Linked DNA regions of Homo sapiens: region 2 is reported to be linked to region 1. The links are microRNA targets in miRTarBase. Many come from high-throughput screens and were not tested one by one. Region 1 holds a microRNA gene; the other region holds the end of a gene's coding sequence.
The links. Region 1 holds the annotated microRNA hsa-miR-1245a (AAGUGAUCUAAAGGCCUACAU, at 5,517-5,537, opposite strand). A microRNA usually pairs through its seed, bases 2 to 8, with sites in the 3' UTR of a target mRNA and lowers its output. Matches are read on the target gene's strand: a 7mer-m8 pairs with bases 2 to 8, a 7mer-A1 pairs with bases 2 to 7 and ends in A, and an 8mer does both.

Region 1 (12,419 bases):
GAAAGAGGCCTGCTACCGAGTAGGCAAGTAGTTCAAAATTAGTTTTTGCCGCCTAGTGGTCAAGAGGCCTTTTAGTGGTCCTAAGATTTTTCCATCTGGGCACTACATGCAGCCACAAAAGATCACCTTTTCGAGGTCCCGTTGCTATATCATCTCTCTGTCTAGGGTAATAATAATTTAGGTTTGTGTTTAAATGAGTTGAAATGTTTAGCTGATTTAGTAAATGTTCACCAAAAAGAATTTCAAAACCTAGACTCTAGAAAGTACTGCAATTGCTTCCCCACCTCATTTCCATTTATGTGTTCTGATACAAATTTAATGATATTGTACAAGACACTTGATCTACTCAAGAAGTTTTAAAAATCCATTCTTTTTTATGTTACAATTTCTCAATGTAGTTTACAGCTAACGAAGGAAAGCTTCATTTTTTAATTGCAATTTTAAGTAGGCAAATAATTTGTTTATTTAGAAAATTTATTCTAATTCCTCCCCTATGTCTGAAACACATATATGAGAACATGGGATATATTTTCTATATACATTTCCTAAGCTTTTAAAACAGCATTTCTTAATTCTTAGTGAATATAAAAGCTGAATACCAAAATGCTTATCTCAGTGGAAATGAAGTAGGCCTATTTGAATGGTGTTACGGAAAATATATTTAATAGAAGAGCAAACAGTCATTTACACATTGGTGTGAAGAGTAATAACAGGTGAGTCTATGCATTAAACTCATTTTGTTCTCTAGACAGAACTGGCGTTTCATATTTAAGTACTAAGTTCACCAGTCTGCAGAAAAGGTCCGAAAATTTGGGTTTGGAAGATTGTGCAGTAAAATTACATGGAACACTGTAATTACATTGGTTCCTTTTCTCAAAATGAACCACTTAAAAATTTTCTCCAAATCAACTTTATATGAAATATTCCTACAGATTAGTTTCAGCCCAAGATTTTCCCATTAATAATGTGTATTTTAAGCCCTCCAGATCCATCCTCAAAAGCATTGTTAGATTGTACAGATGATTCTTTTAGCTCATTGCCTCTGGATCAGGCATATCTTTTCACACTTAATACAGCACGTGGATTATGAAAAACAGCCATTGAATACTAAAGGCATATTAAAGACAAATGAAGATAATAGTTAAAGCTAGGCTCAAACATTTCCTATTTTAAGTATCTTCTATATGTTCTTGATCTGCCTAGAAATTAACATAAATACTTTTCCCTCCTGTGTATTCATCCTCCTATGTTTATGTCTCATTAAGGGTGTCCTCACATCATTAGAAATACAGTACTTTCCATTTGTTCTGCTAATTATTAAATAAATGAGCACAATATTGACTTATTAAAATTGTAAATGAGTTTGTTAAAATTGGGTCAAATGCAATGTTATAAGTATTAACGTTGTTATTTAGCTTATTGTTTCTAAATTTTATTAGAAACATATTATAGTACTTTTTAAAACACGGAGGCCTCAATATAAAGATTATTTTAGTGCAATTTTAAAAATTATCATATTCTTAAAATATTTTTCTCTTCTCACCTGCACATGACAGTCAACATGGTGCATGTATGTTTTGTTTTACTTTAGAAAGTCATATTGTTTTAAGTAAAAAAAAGAGAGTTGGAATGTTTAAAAAATAAGAATTAATGCAACTTTATTTATTGCCATAACTTATTTCACATCCACTTGAAATAAATTTGGCTCTCCTGAGAAGTCAGTTCCTGTAAAAACTTGTGGCTGAAAATTAGCCCTTTCTCTGTTTTTCTACCTTAGTTACCTTTGCTGAAAAAAATAGTTTTGTATAGCTTCCTTTATTATTCCATGCATGACAAAATATAGTTAGCAATATATTCTACTGAAAGTTAAAGCTCTTAGATTGATGTTTCATGGACCTTCATTTAATACCTAGTAATATGTGCGAAAATCATGGCAAAGTCAAGGAAAAGAATGTTTTGTTTCTAGAGGAATAAAAATGCTCTAGTTAGCCATTTGCAACATTTAGAAATAGAATAGAAAATGGGATTTAGAAGTAAGTCATCTCATATTATTCTCTTCATTTCTTAGATATCTGCATTCAGAGTAGCTTCGGTTAAAAAAATAAGTTAATTTTTTCCAAAAATATTAAATAAAAGGCAAATAATTTCATTCTACTATTGAAAAGTAATGGACTTTCCAATTATTTCCATTATTTTAGTTGTTTAAACTAAATCTCTCTGTTCCAATTTATAATTAATTTTAAATTCCATCTCCCATGTCATTTGGTGTTTCTGTTCCTTACTACGAAGTACAATTCTGAAAGAAATTTACTTGTGATCACACAAGCAATGTATTAAACTCAATCATCTCCTTGCTGGGATCTATAATATAAAACATATTGAAGCTAACACATGTCTTAAACCACTCTTAGCTGCTTCTTTCCTAGTTTTCTATTTTGGAATTTTAGAGAAAAATAAAGCCAAATAACATAATTTTATATTTTTAGATGTGCATAAAGCTTACTATTTTGTGATTTTTTTGTTTCCATTCTTCATGTTAAATCATGCTGACTTGAAGAAATCATATTGTTTGGACAAAAAATGAATGTTATGTTTGTCTTAATACTATTTTTGGAGCAATAATATTATTCCCTAAAGCACCTAATTAAATTAATTAATTTGGCTTGAATGAAAAGTGAATGTTTTTTCCTTTTCTCTTCTTACTAAATCCTTATCTGGGAAAAGATGTTGTATAATCTGAAAATCTAAGAATCACAGATATGATATATAAATTATCATAATTATTTTCATTACTTTAGAAAGCTGAATATTTTGTACATGTGGGTATTTGGCATTCATATAGTTTCCAATTGAAATAATGTTTGGTTTGCCTTTTAAATGATATTGTTTGGAAAACATAAATTTTAATAAAATATTTTTTCTGCTGCTTATGTATTTATCAGAGTATCTTAAAATATGTTAGATTACTTAACAAAAAGGACTCTGAAGAAAGTATCTGTAGACATTCTAGGTGAATAATTTTAATTTAAAAGCACTGTTTTGCATAGAAAATAAGATTTTATTTATTCTTGCTACCTCCAGGAAAAAAAGTTGATAAATTATCATTTGTAGATATTTTCTTGTTTCATATTTTATAGATATATGCTTTTTCAATCTCCTTAGAAATGTCCTTTAAGTTGATTAATCTTTTAGAATTCAATTAATCTTTTAGAATTGTCTAAAAGATTAATCTTTTAGAATTGTCTAAAAGATTAATCTTTTAGAATTGTCTAAAAGATTAATCTTTTAGAATTGTCTAAAAGATTAATCTTTTAGAATTCAATCTCCTTAGAAATGTCCTTTAAGTTGATTAATATTTTATCCTGTTAAAAATAAAAATAATTAGATAATTAGAAAATTTTAAGTATCATATATCTAACCACCAGCAATTGCATATATAATAAAATCTTCTTAGTGTCAAATTATAAAAACATTGAAGAGAATATATTCTACTTGTCTTATTACATTTGGCAAACAACTTTAAATTGTATAGTCTTATAAATAAAATTTTACATTTCACCATCCTTATCACTAAGTTACTAAGTACTTTAATTTCTTCCTTAGAGTAATTTTATTTGCCAGCGTTAGTAAAACTAGTGCTATAGTACCTCCTATCTTGTAGGGACTGCTCTGAGTAGTTTGAATATCTATTTTGCTTCATACTCCCAAAGGCCTTATGAGCTTACAGCTGTCATAATCCTAATTTTACAGATGAGGAATCTTAACTGCAGAAACATTAAGTAATTTTCCCAAGGTTACACAGTCAGGGTGAAAAAGAAGATCTGAGTGTAAGAAGGCTTTCTCTAAATTTGATACTCTTAATTACTGCATTCTATTTTCTTTCTGCTATTTCAAAACTGAGTACGATTAAAGAAGCCAACTCCAAAGCTCTGTCCCATATGATTTTTTATCCCTGCAAGGTTAAAATCTGAATCTAGATAGGTATATTTTGAAGGACAACAGTTCTTTGCAAAATATTTTTCTATCTGGCCTCAAAACAGGAAGATGCCATCTGGAGTTAAATTCTCCTGTTTATTTTCTCTTGACCTTATGAAGAAGGGTTATATCTCTAAAGCTACCCTGATGACATCCAGACCACCAACAGAATAAATGTGTGACTCAGAAACCCTGCATACATTTTGCTATATACAAAAAAGTAGGGTTCTAACAACAATAGTACCAGACAGAAAAGACTTCTGCATCCAATGCAAAAATATGTTTAAGATGTCTCATTAACACACTGTTTTTCAGAAAATATAGTTACTAAATGATTCATGTTAATATACATCTAAGTTCATCAGAAGTTTTCACTGAATGAAACTGGAACGTTGTGAACATGCTATGCAACTCCAAAGAGTATTTCTGTGATTTTAATTTACTTGAGAAATGCAGTCTCTGTCATCCTCCACACAAAATACTATAGAAAAACAGTTTCAGAAAAATATATGCCATTTTACTGAAGCAGTACTTTCTTAATACTAGAATTCAAGGGAAGTTTAACTTTTAATAATTTCTGGATCTTTTCTCTTTGATGTTTACATCTTTTGGGCATTTTGACTCGTCCTCTTTCAACGTTTCATTTTGTTCATTAAGACTACATTTTAAACAGCAGTGCTTGACCTCAGTCATGGAAAAAAACAAGGGTTTTATTAGTTAATCTGAAAGGAATCCACTTCTGCTGTGTTTTCATTAGACACAGACTGAAACTCTGGTGGTTAATGTAACTCCCCCAACTGCAGTTCACAAATGATTTATGTAAGAATAGCTATCTCATTTTTTCCGTTGTCATCTTGACATGAAACAGGCAAAGTTTCCCCTTTGAAAAGTCTGGAGAGTTTTTTTTTACACTATATGATCTTTTTTTTTTTTTTTTTTTTGAGTGTGGAAACAATGGGATTGAGCTTTTATCTTAGGGAAAACTTTTACAAGAAACAGTTCACTGAGAGGGTTCCAGAAAGTTATTGTAGACCTGGAAACTTTACAACTGTTCCTCATGTCCAGCAAAAGCAATAACATCTTTCATCTTTAAAGCTTTAATTCTTTAAGCAATCTACTTTAATCACTTCAAGGCGGTGATATCATTAGATGTTACAAAATTAAAGAGCTGGGCTACATAATTTTTGGAACTCTGCACCAAAGAAGCCATTCACAATGGAAACTGTGGAGTTTCGGTAGATGGCACTCTTTTCTCTGAGTGACAACTCAAGGTCCAGCATGTGACCGTAGATGTAGAACAGGGGCTTTCCTGAGGAGCTGTCCTTTAGCCTCAACTATAATCCTGGTAAACTCACAGCCAATCATTCTTGATTTTTAAAAAGAAGCCTGTAGATAAGACATCAATCCAGGAATCTGAAGTAGTTAAGAGGCATTTAATCACAGTCTTTCCTTCTTTCCCAGAATTGTTCCAGTGGATTTGCTTTCTTTTCTTGTAATGCTGAAATGTTTAATTCCAGAATTTAATAAAAATACCTTTTTATATGTAGGCCTTTAGATCACTTAAAGAGTATTCAACATCAGATGATCTAAAGGCCTATACATAAATAGGTAGTTTTGAAAATCCAAATTTTTCAAGGCTCTGTTATTACCTGAGCATTTTTCTTTCCCTAGAAAAAAAGCTCAGGTAAGTAAATACAAGGTATCATGGATGAAAAACACAAAGTGTTATAATACTTTATTTACTCACACAGAACTGGTGATAATTTCTTTTAAAATGATAAGATCCTGAGCTTCTGGGGTTTAAAAAAATTAACGTACTACTCTCTATAAAATTGAATATTAAACAGAAAAATACCTATTCTTTTTTCACCTTTAGAAATGCATTATTAGTTCATGTACTTTCTAGGACGATATATAATTTTTTTAGTATCTCCTTTCAATGACAAATAGTTACAAAATTAAGAAAATTCAAATATCTGATTTTAATGTGTATTCTATAATTATCTAAGACTGAACAGAATATTGGTCCTAGCCTTGACTCCGTCATTTTCTAGTTTTGTAATCTCAAATAAAGCACTGATCCATGTTAGGTGACTGACACTGAGATATGTGAGCAACTATGCATTCTCTCCCTTTAAAAGTGCAATTGTTCCTAAATGTATGTAACCTTTTCCTGTTAGTTCAGTGTGTTTAATTGTAGGGACAAACACAAACCAGAAAACTTGAATGTTACCTGAGCAAGTTACAAATTCCCTCTTAAAGCATAATGAAAAAAATATACTCTCATGACGTCTAATAAGAAACTGATTCTCTGAGTCCATTTACAGTTTTAAAATTCTAAAACAACTAGAGGCCTACAGTTTATTTTACTGGAATTATCACTGTAGCAAAATATAGAAACTCAAACATTAGTACACATTTAATTAAAATAAAGTTTCTGTTTCTGCCCTAATGGAGCAGTATTACTTAGTAACAGCTGTCTATAATCTATCTAACAATTAAGCAGTGAATAAAATACTTATGTCAAATAAGGACTACATCAGAGACATGAAAAATGTATTTAAACAATAGTCATATGTAGAATTTTTAAGTGGCCGTAACATTTAAGCTAATTTCCAAAAAGACTCTGAATATTGTTACCATTGTGTTTTCGTGTCAGTATATGTGTTTGCAATATTTATCCGTAACATACTAATTTCCTTAGGAGAGCAGTGTTAACATTTAAAATTCACGCATATGAATTTTTTAAAGCTCATTATAAACTACCAAAGCCAGCTACATAACATTAATATTGGCATTCGTTATGTAAATGGTAACCTGGCTTGTCAGCCACTAGGTGACGCATCTTTGTACTTAAAACTTGGCATGTTTATAATCTACAGGAAATATAAAACAGACTATGTTTCTCCATTGGTGGATTAAAACACATGAATTAAATACAATGTTCACAAATTTGTAAGACGACCAAAATTCTTTTTGAGGACTTGTTTGTATCCAGAAAATGCCTGTGAGTGAACTAGAAGTGAGTGTTCATTAGAGCTGTGCCGTCTCTGAAGTTATGAGGGCATATATAAGAAACCCCACCCCAGAACTTTATGACAGCTCTCAGTGTGCTGTATATTCAGATACCTCCTGTAACTTTTCCAAAGCTTATCTAATAGCAGAATTTCCTTGTAAAACCCACAGGGAACATAAGATGTACTGTCTTAAGTCACTTCAACTTTACTTTTACTCATGACAAAAAAAATAGGCTGAACAGTTCTCTTTCAACTCTTTTTGAGCTTAAGAACACACAAACACATATCAGCAAAATTTTATACTTATTGATTATTTTTTGCATCTAAAGAGAAAGAGGGAAATAAACAGAACTTAATGTGATGTCAAGGTACTGTAAGTGGCAAACACCCCCCCACTAAAGTTGGATTGGGAAGAAAAATAGCCACAGTGCTTATAAAAAGCTTGCAACCACGAGGCAACTACAAATATGTTGCAATTTTTTGAGCTAAAACCCCTAAGTTTGTAGTCTTTTCAATAAATGGTTGGTGGGGGATAGTAGTCATTTGGTATCCTAAAAAAGGACTGTGAGTTGTAGCATCTCCTGGGAAGAGCAGGATAGGGAGGAAAAGGGGAGAGGAATGAGAAAGGAAGAAGGATTGAGAGTTCAGGGGAAAGAAAGGGTGAGGAGGCAAGGAGAGAGAGAACTAAAAAAAAGAAATGGAGGCATAAGGAGGCCACATGGGGAGTAGGGAGGGAGTAACAGGCAGGGAAGACAGAGGAGGAGAGAGGAGTAGATATGGGCTTGCCTAGGAAGGGGTGGGGTGATGAGTGAAGAGAAGTCTAAAGGAGCCAAAAGGGGTGGAGAGAGATAAGGAGGAGGGCAAAGCGAAGGAGAGGAGGGGTAAGGAGGAGAGGAAATTAAGGGAACAAGGAAAATGGGTGTTTCTTTTCTTTTGTGTCCATGGGCTGAATATAACTGAAGACATTTCATTGTATATCTACCCCTCCCCTCATACACACATTTACATGTATTAGCTATGAGGACAACAAATACATTTGATATTACAAACAAAAACCAAATTTTCATGCAGTGTCCTTTGCAAAATCTATATGTTTAAATGTAACCATGTTTAGTTATGTGCAATAAAAATTGTCTAATAATTTCTCCTAGCTATCTTTACATTTAGCACTTAAATATTTATTTCTATGGAAGTTTGTATTCCAATTTGTTCAGCATTTTCATGACTATGGTAAATAAAAGAATATTTTCACATAAATAATGAGACAAATGTGTTTTTAGGGGAAATTAGAATATGAAAAACATTACATGCAATTATTAGAAAATATAGCAAAACAGCTTTCTGAAGTCAAACAGTACTAGTATCTTTACCTTGTTTGCAGCAAAGTCAAACCTCCTGTTGAAACATTTTAAAAAATATTTTCTTCATTAATGCGAATGTGGTTAAAACGTAGAATATGTGGAAAATATTAGTCCCTTAATATCAAGCTACTAGAAAAGATGAATTAATCAATCATTCTTGAAACAAAATAAAAACAGGAATAATAAAATATTTTAGCAGTTTGATCCCTTTGAAGAATGTTTATAGGTATCTTGTAGCCATTTTACAGAAATATATTCAATGATTCTGATAATGCGTAGAATCTTCCTTTAGACTGTTCTTAATCCATGATATTTGAAAGGCATTCTTATTCAGAAAACAATGCTCAATATTCTAACCTTACAAAGAATCCAGCAGACAAAGAGGAACATAAAATTATTGCAAGAGACCAATAACTTCCAGACTGCCTGGGGAAGTATTCCAAGATGTTAACAATCCAGGAGGGAAAAATTTTAAAGCCATTTTTAAAAGTTTCCAGTGCCTTTAACATGAAAACAAGTTAGTACAAGAACATCTTATCTTAACCACAGAACTCTTAAAAACACACATAACGCGATTATTTTTCAAGTAATGTAAAAAGCACAGCCATGGTCAGTTCAACGTTTCACAATCTGGAGCTTATAGAGGAAATTATCTTGAATCAGGCAACTGATTTTCCCCTTTACACCCCTCTTTGTGAGGAGAAGAAAGACAAAAATCCCATAAAGTTTCTTGAAATCAGTACCTACTCACCTTCCTGTTGTGCCAAAATAATAGTGGGATGAAGCAGAGCGAGAAGTAGCCAGCTCCCCTTTTGCACAAAGCTCATCATGTCTAAATATCAGACATGAGACTCTTTGTGCAAAAAGGAGAAAAGAAAAGCAGTTCAAAGTAGCACCATCAAGTTGTTCCCTGCCCTTCAGCACCGGGCCCGTCATAAAACTCAGCCACTGAGATTCCTTTGCTTTGGCCTTAAATAGGAAAAAGTTTGGCTTCCCTCACTTTCCAGCCCCTTTCTGAAATATGAGAGCCGCACCCATCCCCTCAGCAGTAAAAGAAATGATAAATATTTCTTTTTCCCTTATAGAAGACACAACCCACAGTAAGAAAAAGAGCACATCTGGAGTTTGTATGCATCTGCTTATGTAAAAGTTTTTTTACATATTTCACTCTTACATATATGTTTGTATAACTTAGGAACGTATAGAAATGCTCTGCCTTGTTTTAATACATACAATGTAAATGCATACATTTTTATTTCCCCTTATGAAGTTAACAACTGCATAATTTTGAAAAACTGCTTGATGCCCATTTATCTAGTATGTCTAATTTACAGAACTGATCTTCCTAGAAGATTTTTATGTTGGGATTTTGCCAGAAGTAATCCTAACTCAATTTAAATAGGAGACTGTAAGAGACTCACGGAAAGAAATGCCACCGTATGCCCCTTCGACTCATCCACCCACCCTGGGTCCTAGAAGTTAAGTTTCAGGCAAATATCAAAAGACAAAGTATTTCAGCAATGTTTGAATGGCTTCCTAAAAGTTAGATACTTATCTATAGCTGTTTCCATTTCTCACAAATTTCTTTAGCAAGCCAGAGTGCTTTCTTGTGAGATTTCCAATTTTTATGCTGCCTGGGAAAGACAGAGCAGATTTTTCTAGAGAAAAATTCAGCCTTTTCATGACATAACTTTTTAGGAAACTGGAAGAGAAAGAGTTTATCACATAGAATAGCAAAAGAGTACCAGAGAAAGTGGTCATTTTTTCTGCATTACTCTAAAGATTAGTATAAATATTTCTAATTTAGACTTTTATGTGTATACTTTCCAGATCCTCATCCACAAAACTTTCCAATGTATTTCTGGATCTATCTAAGCAGTAATTTTTGTGTCATATTTGAAAGAGGGGCAAATACCATTTATAGGTCTTTGATAAATCTCTGCAGGAAAAATATGCTTGTCCACAGTATAAGGCTATATCTGGCAATGGAGATATCTCTTTACACCCTAATCATCAGTTCATAGTTAGTTCATCTATCTCTATAATCTACGGTGGACATTTCAATTCTAATCAAGGTCACTTGAACTAATTTTCTTCACCTTCACCTAAACATGTCCGTCTCTATGCCTGTGCACATAAAATTCTCCCCATTTCACACCAATTAATGGAAGTCACTTCCTTATGCCTCAATGCAAAACTTTCCTCCTTAAGTAAATTACCTCCTTTAAACTAATTTTCATCTTTCTCTTTCTTCTAATTTGTGTTACTAAATTTTCACTCAACTCATGTCATATGTATATTCCCAGGTGTACATGAATCCTGTAAGCATGGACAGTGGCAAACTTGCTTTCTTGTTTCTTGCATCTTTTTTTTTTTTTTTTTTGCGACGGGGTCGCCCTCTCTCGCCCAGGCTAGACTGCAGTGGCGCAATCTCGGCTCACGGCAAGCTCCGCCTCCCGGGTTCACGCCATTCTCCTGCCTCAGCCTCCCGAGTAGCTGGGACTACAGGCGCCCGCCACTACGCCTGGTTAATTTTTTGTATTTTTAGTAGAGACGGGGTTTCACCGTGTTAGTCAGGATGGTCTTGATGTCCTGACCTCGTGATCCGCCCGCCTCGGCCTCCCAAGCTTTCTTATATCTTCAGTCACAAGGACACAAACCAAGACATCTCAATGTAGATGACATCATTTGATGACAGGAAAGGAAAACTAGAACGAGACCAACCTCTTGTGTATCTTTATTTTAGATTGGAGAGTCACTGCTTGGGGGCGTGGGAGAAAAGTAACTGTTGAGAATGGTCATGAATATAAGCTTTTCTACTGGATCACAGTAGAGATGCTGGGGAAAGGCTGTTATATGCATCTTTCTGTCTTTCAGACATCTTTGTCCTGTACACAAAAAATATTTCCTGTGTTCAAACCAATTCAGAAACATAGTTTTTCTCATGATGTCTTTGTATCTACGTAGAATTCATATATCTATATTAGATTTCTCTCATTGTTTTAGGTGGTCTATAAAAGCTGAAATTTATTGAATTTCTTCATTAGATTTATTTTCCACTGTGAAAAATTAGAAATGTTATTTTTAAAATAATGCTTGTTATGCTTTATTTTAGGCATTATAAATAAAATTACTATTGTTCTAAAATTCTTAATTTGCTTAGCTATTCAAATAAAAGCCTTATACTCATGAGAAAAATTCATGATTGATGCACTCACTTAAGAAACATTAGCTGATGTTTTGCATATGGAAGGATTGTTGTATTTTAAGGTCTTCAGGAGAGACCTAGAGAATTCATTCTCCAGATATTCTGATTTACGATTCTTCACTACCTCGAATATGGAGGTTTTGCACTAGGATCCTTTGCATTCTGTGTCCCAGATCCTATTTTTCTACCTCCTGTCAAAGCATTTCCTAATACGGGGTCAAAGCATTTCTTAATACAGGGTCTGAACTAGGTGAAATGCATACACTTCTGAATCCTATTATGCCATCCAGGAACTGCTGTCCTCATTGTTATCTAGCCACACATTTCTTCCCATACTTCCCTGACTTCACTGATGTTAACCAGGACACATAAACATGTCATTTTGCTTTTTGGATTGCATTTGGAGCTTTAACACAAATCTAAATACCTGCACCAACTAAAGCACTGATTAATCTGGATCTCCTTTAACAAAGAGAGTGCCTGGAAAGATGAGGCAAAGCAAGGGTGTGGCAGATTATCAACCAAAAATTCAAATCTTTTCCAATTCAGTGGAAAGTGGAGCTTGAGAGAGATGCACAAGCACAGCTGTGATGAACTCAGTAGGCCAGTGAATGCCAGCAGCGCTTTCTACAACAGCACTAAGAAAATCAATTATCTCCACCATGGAAAACACATGGAACAGAAATGTTTCAATGTTTCTCTCTTTCCTCTCCCCTCCCCTTTGTTGTGCGGCTTTATGTGTGATTTTCTTTTTGAAGCCAGCAAGATGCTTTATTTTTAGGGACATTTTCTAGATTTCAAATCACTGTAAAGCCATTTAAAAACTACTTGTGATAATAGAACTACCAATACAACTGT
Region 2 (12,419 bases), not on the chromosome of region 1:
AAGGGCCTTAAAATTTGGGGGACACTATATTAATTAAACTTTCCTTCAACTCTTGTTTGAAGACGTGTCCCTAAACCCCTAGTTTATATTAACTGGTTCTCCCTGCACCAGTTGAGGGACCACCCAGTCAAGAAAGACACCTGTTCAGATGGTGTCATTCTTCACTTTGGCCAGCCTATACAGCAATAGAAGAGGCCTATGAGCTATTCCCTCACTGACACCCTGCTATCCCCTTTATAATGTAGATCTCAAAAACAACCAAACCGATTCCAGCTACTTTATTACTTGACTTATAGTAAGTGGCAGAGTAACCTTATGTTTTGAATATATGTGTAATAATAGTATCTTTTATGTTTTTTCAGAGAAGACTATTCAAGGACCTCAAGTAATTAAAACATATAGGCCTTAAACCAAAAAAAAAAAAAAACCCTGTCTTTAAATCTGTTTTGAATGTTTAGCATAATTATACTCTTGTCATTTCCCTAGGGGATGGCATTCCTACTGTATTTGTGGCAGTGGCAGGCAGAAGTAATGGTTTGGGACCAGTGATGTCTGGGAACACTGCATATCCAGTTATCAGCTGTCCTCCCCTCACACCAGACTGGGGAGTTCAGGATGTGTGGTCTTCTCTTCGACTACCCAGTGGTAAGATACATTGAATTTTTAAAAACTGTTCATTACAAGCATTTAACAGATGCACAACAGTAGACAGAATAGCATAATAAAATCTCATGTACCCATGACCTAGCTTCAGCAATTAACATCTTGTTGTGTCTACAGCCATCTCCTGCTGGATTATTTTAAAGCAGATCTTAGACGTTATAGTAATTTATACTTAAGTATATGTTTAAGTAATACAGGCTCTAGTTTTTAAATCATAATCATGATATTGTTATAGAACAAAAGGAGCCCACTATCTGATGCATTAGAAACCAGTACTATCTAAGCCACCAGGTTTTTGAGAAAGAAAGGCTTCCTCTTTCAAGTTGACCAACAAGGAGACATGAGTCCAGCTCAAATCTGTGCTGGCTTTAAGGCAGCAATTTTATTAGAAAAGGTTTAGGGGATAGATTCTGGGATTAGTAGGTGATTGGTGGAAGGAAAGGGGAGGTCTAGAAAGTCCTTGGGCATGTGCAGTTATCTCTTCATGTTATTTCATGGATCACGTGTGTAAATTTGGGGGAGTTAGAATGAATTGTGGTGGAAATTGGGCCTGTGACATCAGTAAGCTGGTTCTGTGCAGACTCTAGTTGGCCATATTGTTTAATCTACCATTCTGCAAACTCAGGAATTTCTGTTAGTTGTTGGTATCTTTTAACTCTTGGGGACACAGTTTCAATACCATATTCACACCTAAGAAAGACTAGTGGTAGTTTCTTAAGGTATAATTTTTAGTTGGGGTCCAAGTTTTCTAATTGTCTCATCTGTTTGTTCAGATCCACCACAGTCCTTATATTGCATTTAGTTGATAATCTCTTGATTTTTTAAATATATAACAATTCATCCTCCCTTTTTCCCTTTCATTTTTTCAATAGAATTTTCTATATTTTGGATTTGGCTTCTTACATTTCTAGGTGGTGGTAAACATGCTCTTCCATTCCCTATATTTTCTATAAACTGATGGTGAGATCTGTAATAAAATCAAGTTTAGATATTTTTTTCCCAAGAATTCATGGTATTGATTTTTTTTTTTAAAGTAAATGTGATCATGTTACTTCTGTAGAGAGAATACAATTTTATTCTTAAATATTGGGGATAAGGCTGGGTGCAGTGGCTCATGCCTGTCATCCCAGCACTTTGGGAGGCTGAAGTGGGCAGATCTCTGGAGGTCAGGAGTTCAAGACCTGCCTGGCCAATATGGTGAAACCCCATCTCTACTAAAAATACAAAAATTACCTAGGCATGGTGGTGAGCATCTGTAATCCCAGCTACTCAGAGGCTGAGGTAGGAGAATCGCTTGAACCTGGGAGGCAGAGGTGAGTCAAGATTGTACCAATGGATTCCAAACTGGGCAACAGAGTGAGACTCGGTCTCAAAATAAAAAATTGGGGATAAAAGATAATAACATAAGGAAGTCCCCTTTTGGCTGATGGAACTGGATCACGTAACAGTGTTGTGGTTCGTTCATCATAGTCCAAGATATGATCTGATATTCTGCAGTTTATGAGGGTCAATATTGTTTCAGTAGGAGATTTGCTTTATTACTAAAATCCCTAACTTTTCTCATATCTGTATATATCCAGTCTTGATATGTGTCAAGTATATTAAGTCTTTGAGCCCTCCAACCTGGTCCAGTGGACTGGCTTCTCTCTAGGCATCCTGTACTGCTGTTGTCTTAGGATCCCCCTTTACCATAATTTTGGAGACTCATTTTGCCTTTCTCTAGGCTTGGATCTCCCATGTTTTCCCCTTACTTGGTTTATTTTTATTTTGTTGGAGTACATTCTTGAACTTGGGGGCAAAAGAATACAAAAGGTAAATTTTGATACCTTGTGTATCTAAAATGTGTATATTGAAGCCCTATACTTGATAGTTTAGAAATAGAATCCTATGCTGAAAATCATTTTGCTTTGGAATTTTGGGAGCATTATTACTCCACTGTCTCCTAGCATCCACAGTTGAGGACTCCATTGCTTTTCCACCAGTCTGATTCTAGGTTTCTTATGAATTTTGTTTCTCTCTGGAATCTTTCAGGATCTTTTGTCTGTTTTCATTGTTCTTAAATTTTACACAGATGTGATGTGCTGAGTCTGTTTTCATTATGGACTTTCGGTGAGCTCTTTTAATCTGAAATTCTGATTTCTTAGTCCCCATTTTCCTTGAATTATTTAATTTTCATACCCCTCCATATTCTCTCTTCTCATTTTTGAATTTGAATAAATTTGGGCTTCCCTTGATTTCTATTCTACTTGTTTGTCTTGTTGGTATACTTTCTGGAATATTTCCTAAATTTTACATTCCAACCCTTCTATTGAGTTTTTCTTTTTTTTCTTGAGACGGAGTCGGGCTCTCTTGCCCAGGCTGGAGTGCAATGGCGCAATCTCAGCTTACTGCAGCCTCCGCCTCCCAGGTTCAAGCGGTTCTCGTGCCTCAACCTCCTGAGTACCTGGGATTATAGGTATGCACCACCACGCCTGGCTAATTTTTGTATTTTTAGTGGAGATGTGGTTTCACCATGTTGGCCAGGCTGGTCTCGAACTCTTGACCTCAGGTGATCTGCCTGCCCTGGCCTCCCAAAGTGCTGAGGTTATGGGCGTCAGCCACTGTGCCCGGCCTTCATTTTGGATACAGGTGTTTTTTGTTTGTTTTGACACAGGGTCTTGCTCTGTTGCCCAGGTGGGAGCACAGTGGCATGATCATATCTCACTGGACCCTTGAACTCCCCGGGCTCATGTGATCCGCCCACCTCAAACTCCCAAGTAGCTATGACTACAGGCCCACACCATCACACCTGGTTAATTTTTTTACTTTTTGTAGAGATGGGCACTCCGTATGTTGTCCAGGCTTGTCCTGAACTCCTGGACTCAAGCAATCTTCCCACCTCAGCCTCCCAAAGTGTTGGGATTGGGTAGGAACCACTGCCTCTGGGGTTTTTTTTTTTTTTTTTACACAATGTTTTTATATTTCTTTTGGTTTTTGTTTTCTGGGTTTTTGTTGTTGTTGTTGTTTGTGTTTGTATGTTTTTAAATTTCCAAAAGCTCTTTTTTGTTCTCTGGAGATGATTATAGTCTGTTGCATATAGTTACTTTCTTCAGCTGTCTGGTAATCCTTGGCTGTTTGCGCTTTTAAGAGTGGAATACTATAAAAAACAATTGGAAACTTCAAGTGGGTGGTCCGTGTCAAAATTGGGCTTCACTGTGGGGTGTATCTGGTAGGGATTGTTCTTCAAACAACCCCTCACATTAGTGTCTAGGTATTTTCTTAAGTGTTGACCAGAATTACTCAGAGAACAAAAGTTGTCTGTGCCTGGCGTCCCCTAGTTCAAAGACGCCAAGACTGAAGTCTGTTTTACCTTCAGAAAAATTAAAGGCCTGGCTTGGTGGCTCATGCCTATAATCCCAACACTTTGGGAGGCAGAGATTGGTGGATTGCCTGAGCTCAGCCTAGGCAACCTGGCGAAACCCCATCTCTACCATAAATACAAAAATTAGCTAGGCATGGTGGCACACGCCTGTGGTCCCAGCTACTTGGGAAGCCAAGGTGGGATGATCACTGGAGCCTGGGAAGTTGAGGCAGCAGTGAGCCGTGATTGCACCACTGCACTCCGGATGACAGAGCGAGACCGTGTCTCAGAAAAAAATAATGTTTAAAAAGAAAAAAATTGCTACAGTGCTTTAAAGAGGCAGTTACTCAGGTAGATGGAGTGGGGAAGGAGATTTGAGGACCTAGCTTCTTCTTAGACTTCGAGTCAGTCATCTTCTTCTTAGTCCCTATTCCCTTCCAAAGGTATCTGGTGCCACTAATTTAGTCAGTCACCCTTTGGGGGAGTTCTGTAATGTCAGTCATGTTGCTTCTCATCTTTCCCTGCTTTCAGTTTAGAATTAAGTTTTTTTTTTTTTTTTTTTTTAAATGGAGTTTCGCTCCTGTTGCCCAGGCTAGAATGCAATGGCGCAACCTCCGCCTCCCAGGTTCAAGCGATTCTCCTGCCTCAGCCTCCCAAGTAGCTGAAATCACAGGCATGCACCACCATGCCAGCTAATTTTGATTAAGTTTTCTTGGTCTGCTAACTTAGCTACCACTGTGTTTGCCTTTCAGTTGCCAAAATGTTACTGCTGTTATCTGGCCTTGTGTGTTCATGCCTATTTCCTTTACTGTTTTTATAGGCTCTGAGAATTAAATTTTGTGCCTAAGCTATCTTTAACAAGATGTGATTATACAAATGTCTCAAGCTAAAAATCAGCGGCTACAAATAAAGCTGTAACCAAATTTATGCCAGAGGAATTGTATAGATACCCATGGAGCTTACAAAAGGGGAGCATGATAAGCAAAAAATTGGCAGTTTTTATAGTAGTGTTGTTTCAGGAGTGACAAATAATCTGGAAGACTTGTACATAATGATCACTAGAATTGGGGATAATCTTTTGAGGAGTAGTTTTACAGTAACCTGTGTAAAATCCTGAAGACCGCCCATATTTCTCATCTCTGATGTCATGCTCACTAGATAACTTTTTTTTTTTTTTCTGCAATTTAAGCTATTCTTTTACCAGAAAGGGAGTCCTGGGCAGGAGGCACAGGTTATTTCAAATATTAGAGTGGAGCACTCTACCTAGCGTGCTAACAATAGTGGTTGACATTCTTGGAGCACATACTGTGTACCAGGCAATGCTCTAAGCACTTTATCTATGTTATTAACTCATTGAAGTGTCACATCAGGTAGCTACTAGTTAAAATTCCCTTCTCACAGAAGAGGAGAATAAATTAACGTGAAGTAACTTGACCAATACCACATATTAAGGGGTGGAGCTCCATAAAATAACGTATTAATACAAATTAGTAAATTGGCCTTGTGATTTGTATTTGACTCTGTTCTTGTGGATAATGGGAGTCAAAGAGCCTGATGAATTCCAAGAATATCGGGAAAATCGAGCTTTTGGAACTATAGCAAACACTAGACATAATAGTACCCCTGATTCTAGCAAACACTAGACATAATAGTACCACCTCAAGACACTCTGCCTGAGCAGACATGTGGCCCCTAGGATGTTACTTTTTTATTCTGCTGTCTTGGATCTTATTAATATTTATTTATAACTTGACATTTCCTAAAATTATTCTACGGATTTGACTTTTACTGCTCAAAAATATTAAAATAGTTCAAATGCAGATAGAAAGATTAGCTAGAAAACTGTCAAAACAACATAGCTCAAGTTTGTCTAAGAACAGGTACTTTTGTACTCTTACCTTGACCCTTATTTTGCTTCAGTTGTTCTTCGCCAGGGATTGAAAGGGATAGTGTATGTGAACAGAAGTTTCAAAAAGATAAGTTTCTTTGTAAGTGAGTTCTATAAGAAGGGTGATAGATGATATATATAAAATATCTCTTCATGGCAGGTAATACTGACTGCTTTTCCTCTTGTAATCACTTTACCACTCCGGTATTAAAGACAGTTGTACAGATTCTACTTTAGATTAGAATAATGCAGTAGCTTTTTATTTTCTGTGGCAGGACTGCTCTGAGTATAAAATTTTTTGTAAGGTTGTATTTTCATTACTAATTGAGCTCAATTTTCTGTCTTTTCCTTGCTGAACCAATAGGTCTTGGCTGTTCAACCGTACTTTCTCCAGAAGGATCAGCTCAATTTGCTGCTCAGATATTTGGGTTAAGCAACCATTTGGTATGGAGCAAACTGCGAGCAAGCATTTTGAACACATGGATTTCCTTGAAGCAGGCTGACAAGAAAATCAGAGAATGTAATTTATAAGAAAGAATGCCATTGAATTTTTTAGGGGAAAAACTACAAATTTCTAATTTAGCTGAAGGAAAATCAAGCAAGATGAAAAGGTAATTTTAAATTAGAGAACACAAATAAAATGTATTAGTGAATAAATGCTTCTCTAGATCCATATTAATAAACATGAGCATCTAACCCCTCCTTTCTTAGGCTAGACACCAAGATATTTCAGCCAGCCTTTATCATTCCTCTTACTTTATCCTTTTTCCTTAAGTATTGGTGGTCACTACTATTGAGTTTCTTCCTTAACACTGATTAAATGATCTTAACTCCCTCAGCTAAAACTGGCATTACTGACTCCCAGCTATATTTCTCCAGACTTGCATTTTTTTTTTTTTTTTTGAGACAGGGTCTCACTGTCGCCCAGGCTGGAGTGCAGTGGCGTGATCTCAGTTCACTGCTGCTTTCCCTCCTGGGCTCAAGCAGTTCTCCCACCTCAGCCTCTCGACTAACAGGGACTATAATCTTGCAGCACCATGCCGAGCTAATTTTATTTTTTGTAGAGATGAGCTCTCACTATGTCACCCAGGTTCGTCTCAAACTCCTGAACCCTAGTAATTCTCCTATCTCAGCCTCCCAAAGTGCTAGGGTTACAGACATGAGCCACTGTGCCTGTCTAGACTTGTACTTTCAACTGTCCATTTCTCCCTGTCTGTCCCATGGGCACTCATGAAAAAACAGAATGCTCCCAACTTTATTCATCTTCCAAGCCTGTAGCTCTTGGTATACTCACTGTTGCAAGTCAGAAGCTTGATTTCATCATTGATGTTTTTCTCACGTTTCACATCTCACTCATCACCAAGTCATGTTGGTGTTAATTTCTGATTAACCCTTGAATTTACCGTCTTCTCATCCTCTGTACAAAAGCCTCAAGTGAGGGTCAAATTCAACATTATCCTGATCTAGACAGCCCCCATTCTCAATCCACCCTTTTCCAAGTTGATTGCCCAAGGACTTCTAACAATAAACTCTCTTTTGCACCACAGACTTCTTTGAAAATATACATGCTGTTGACCCTCTCTGTAGAAAACCGCACACATAAAACTTACCAACAGATTTCATTGGTTCTTGGGTTCTCCCGAAGCCTATCCATGGTTTATAGATTAAGAATTGATGAGGTAGCTGGGCACAGTGGCTCACACCTACGATCACAGCACTTCGGGAGGCTGAAGCAAGCAGATCACTTGAGGTCAGGAGTTTGAGACCAGCCTGGCCAACATGGTGAAACCCTGTCTCTACTAAAAATACAAAAAGTAGCCAGCCGTGATGACAGGCACCTGTAATCCCAGCTACTCGGGAGGCTGAGGCATGAGAATTGCTTGAACCCGGGAGGCGGAGGTTGCAGTGAGCCTAGATCATGCCACTGCACTCCAACCTGGGCAGCAGAGCAAGACTCTGTCTCAAAAGGGGAAAAAAAAAATTGCTGATGTGACCCATGAAGGGAACTCATTTTCCTCGTAATTTTGGACTGCCACACATTGGTACCTTTAGTTCTCTGAAGGCCCACGTTTTTATCATTAAGACCTATTTGTTAGCTAGTAGAGCTTTATGTTCGCTGTCCATGAAACCTTCTGTAACCACAGTGACTACAAGTAGTTCTTTCTCTATTGAATTATTAGGTCCAGAATAGAAGATGTCATTGTACACTTTATTTCCCTCACACTGTGTTATGCTCTGATGTGCTATGCTTAGCTATCTGTCAGAGATTAGTAAATTATAAAACTCATGTGTACTACTTAAGTTTATATCTTATGCTAGTTTATAAGAACAATTAAAAGGACTTAGAAGATTAACTTTGGTTTCATGGTCTCTGAAGTCACTGACTGCTATTTCAGCTTGTTTACCCTTACCTAGCATTAAGACTCCATCTACTTCTGTGCAGTATATGAAAATTTTTAAACTTTCATTTAGACTGGTGGATAGGACTGACCATTACAAATTGTCGTTATCAATTTTTTTTCCTTTTTTTTTTTAAGAGCCAAGTTCTCACTGTCTCCCAGGCTGGAGTGCAGTGGCATGATTATGGCTCCCTGCAGCCTTGAACTCCTGGACTCAAGCTGCAGCCTCTCGAGTAGCTGGGTGCATGTGCTACCACACCCAATTATGAATTTCATCATTAGTTTCTTAGTAGAGTCCACATGTCCTCAGTAGTAAGTTCATCAGTGCTAAATATTTGAAGGTATTTCTACTGTTTTGTAAAAGTAACTTAAGCCTACCTGGTCTGCTATCTTTTGAGTATTTATACTTTCTACGGGCTTGTAGGTAAACATAAAAAGAGAAAAAATATCCCAATAATACAGTTTTTAACCTTTTATGATAAAGACATGCTTAGAATTGCTGTTAAGCTTTCTGAGATTTAACCACTGAAACTAAGTAAAAGACAAAGCACTTAGGTAAAGCTTCATTCAGTATCCATTCACCCAATACTGGTTTGATTCTAGGGCCTAGGAAAATAGGACTGAGCAAAGCCCTTGTCCAGATGGAACTTATGTTTTAGAGGGGAAAACAAACCATAAAAAGGTAAACAGTATAAAATCAGGAAAGGATAAATGTATATGAAGAATCAAAATGAGGACGGTGATGGGGATAAGAGGGGAAGGTTTTTGAGGAGAGCAGAGCAATGATGTAAAAGCAAGACACACAGATAGGGAAATAGCTTTCCATACTAAGGGAATGGGAAATAAAGCTGAGTTTTGCCTTGAGGACCTCCAAACATGAGAATTGCTAGAGCTCTGTGAACAAGGATGAGAGTGGAAGACAATATAAGCAAAGGCTACATCACTTAGGGCCTATAGGCCACACTGAAGTGTGACAGGAAAAACTCAGTTTGAGCAGAGGCTTGACATACTTAACATATTTAAAGGTTCTCTGGCTGTTGTGTGGACAAGAGGAGAAGCAGAGATTAGTTAAGAGGCTATTGTAGCCCAGGTGAGGGATGATGTATGATCTTCAACATGTCTAATTTTTTTGTGCCTCAATTTCATGAAATGAAAATGCGACTAATACCACCTCATAAAGTTGTGAGAATTACATGAGTCAATATATGTAAGGCCCATCATGGCACACAAATGTGTTATGTAATATCCATTTGGCAGACTGAAGAACAACAGTATGAATGGAATTCATTCACCATGAGAATTACCTGGAATTCTCTGGGCATGGTAGCTCATGCCTGTAATCCCAGCACTTTGGGTGGCCGAGGCAGGTGGATCACCTGAGATCAGGAGTTCGAGACCAGCCTGACCAACATGGAGAAACCCAGTCTCTAATAAAAATACAAAACTAGCCGGGCATGGTGGCACATTCCTGTAATCCCAGCGACTCAGGAGGCTGAGGCAGGAGAATCGCTTGAACCTGGGAAGCGGAGGTTGTGGTGAGCCGAGGTTGCGCCATTGTACTCCAGCCTGGGCAACAAGAGCAAAACTCTGTTTCAAAAAAAAAGAAAGAAAGAAAATTACCTGGAATTCAATATTGCCATCGGCTGATTTAATTTCTAATATGAAGAAAGGGGCAGTGTGATGTGCCACGGAGCATCCACAACCTGCCATTTCAGCCCAGCCAACCTTAGAAAGCCATTGAAAAGAGTTGTTTTTAATGGTGTTTTTACATCCAGCTTCCCACACCTCAAATACTTGGGGTGGAATTGTTAATCTCACATTGCAGTACAATGAAAATAGTGGAATGGAAATCAAGTTATAAAATGGAGCTAAATATTTCTTCTGCTTGCCTCTGAGTTGATAAGATACCATAAGATACTGTACATGAGGCTGGGCGCGGTGGCTCACGTCTTATTTCTTCTGCTTGCCTCTGAGTTGACAAGATACCATAAGATACTGTACATGAGGCTGGGTGCAGTGGCTCACGCCTGTAATCCCAGCACTTTGGGAGGGTGAGGTGGGCAGATCACCTGAGGTCGGGAGTTCAAGACCAGCCTGACTGACATGGAGAAACCCCCTCTTTACTAAAAATACAAAATTAGCCAGGCATGGTGGTGCATGCCTATAATTCCAACTACTCGGGAGGCTGAGGCAGGAGAATCGCTTGAACCTGGAAGGCAGAGGTTGTGGTGAGCTGAGATCGAACCATTGCACTCCAGCCTGGGCAACAAGAGCGAAAATCTGTCGCCAAAAAAAAAAAAAAAAAGATACTGTACATGGAAGCTTCTCAGGCTAAATCCATTAATATAAAAATACATTGTGGATACTGATGAGATGGCTAATTCTGTCAACTTGACTAGGCTACGGGATGCCTTGATAGCTGGTCAAACAACATTTCTAGGTACATCTGTGATGGTGTTTCTGGAAGAGACTAGCACTTGAATCAGTAGACTTGAGTAAAGAAGACTGCCTTCACCCATGTGGGTGAGCGTCATCTAATCCATTGAGGGCCTGAATAGAACAAAAAAGGGGAAGAAGGGTGAACTGCTGGGACATCCATTTCGTGCCCCCAGATGTTGGTGCTCCTGGTCCTCAGGCCTTCAGACTAGGACTTAACGTTATTGCCTCCCCTGATTCTCAAGCCCTCGGGTTTGGAACTACACTGGCTTTCCTGGGCCTTCAGCCTGCAGAAGGCAGACTGTGGGACTTCACCTCCATTTTGCAGAGCCAATTTCTCATAATCTGTACATATCCTATTGGTTCTGTATTTTTTAGAGAACAAATACAGCCTATTATGTATATATAAGACCCTGGGAATGCAAAGATGAACAAAATTAACCTTCTGCTCTCAATGAATCTTGGAAGTCTCCAGAGGCAGACAATTTCAAAACACCGTATATAGTCTTAATATGGAATTAACAATAGGGTATTGTGAATACACAAAAGTAGGAAGGACTCTGATCTCTAGAAAACAATTGTATACTGTGAATGAAAAAGACTAATTCTCCACAGTCTATACTCAATCTCTCTTACCTTTCCATAATTTTCTTCAGCAAACTTATTACCACCAAACATAGTACATGTTTATTTATTACCCATCTCTCCCAACTAGAAAATAAATGTATTACACTGGGCTGTCTTCTTTGTTGTCAGCTGTATCACAGCAACTGGTGTAATACACGGCACTGGCATATACAAGACAAACACTTGTCAGATGAATAAAAATGCAAATTCCAGGAGGTAGGGGGACACATAACTACATGGAAGTTAGAGGTGAATAGCATGCAAGGGGGCTAGGAAATAAGTATAGAGACCTATGTGAGTTGGGGAGGTGGCAAGCAGAGGCCAGATCACAAAAGCTCTTACTGCTCTTCTTTGGAGTTCGGATTTTATCGTGAGGGTAGGAAAGTGGCATCAGATACATGCTTTAAGAGATCAGTCTGGTTTTTTTCCCACCATGTGAAAACAGAAGATGCCATCTATGAATCAGAGTGGCCCCTCACCAGACAATCTTTCCATCCTTCACAATGTGAGATGTAAATTTGTTATTTAAAAAAAAAAAAACAAAACACCACTATGGTTTGGAAGATTCCTGTTTCAAAAATGGCAGGTTAAGCCCCATATTTATAGGCTGTTTGCCACAAAACTCCATTAAAATGACATAAGAAATAGAAACAAGTCCACAGCAGCAGAATTCTGAGCATTTCTAAAAGCTACAAAGTATATAGGATTAGAATGATATAGAAACGAAAATTGCCAATTCTTATATAAAGTCAATGTTCTAAAAAGTACTACTAGGACAGTGGCTCTTAACTTTTGGGAGGGGATGGTGGATATAAACACCTTTGGAGAATACAGTGGAATCTACATTTTCTCAGAATAACAAAATACAACAAAATTTTGGGTATACCCAATTTTCTCACACAACATTTTGGGTATACCATGTCATCTGGAGCCCCCACCCCCTGAAATCTAAACATAACTGGCTTGAAACCTGTGACAATTCTAGTCAGTAAAAGTCTAAAGCTCTTCTCATGATTTTTACTAATTCACAAGAATTACACCCTCCAGCACCTAGAGTTCAAGCCAC

Region 2: miRTarBase lists PAICS as a target of hsa-miR-1245a. Seed matches in the 3' UTR shown: 7mer-m8 at 7,631-7,637.

The regions. Positions count from the first base shown.
Region 1 is chr2:188,971,254-188,983,672 of GRCh38, reverse strand. MIR1245A (microRNA 1245a) reads right to left here and starts at 5,581; the gene lies at 5,512-5,581. It overlaps COL3A1 (collagen type III alpha 1 chain), which reads right to left and starts at 9,300. Exons shown (of 51, transcript NM_000090.4): 1 at 9,105-9,300. The coding sequence starts at 9,183. It overlaps MIR1245B (microRNA 1245b), which reads left to right and starts at 5,512; the gene lies at 5,512-5,580. The region is part of intron 1 of LOC105373791 (a long non-coding RNA gene); the gene reads left to right.
Region 2 is chr4:56,453,117-56,465,535 of GRCh38, forward strand. It overlaps PAICS (phosphoribosylaminoimidazole carboxylase and phosphoribosylaminoimidazolesuccinocarboxamide synthase), which reads left to right. Exons shown (of 9, transcript NM_001079524.2): 8 at 487-645; 9 at 6,256-11,462. The coding sequence ends at 6,422. It overlaps LOC124900706 (a long non-coding RNA gene), which reads right to left. Exons shown (of 2, transcript XR_007058126.1): 2 at 8,194-9,877. Among named protein-coding and RNA genes, the nearest start is that of SRP72, 8.3 kb to the right of the region's middle. RefSeq lists an enhancer at 5,882-7,081.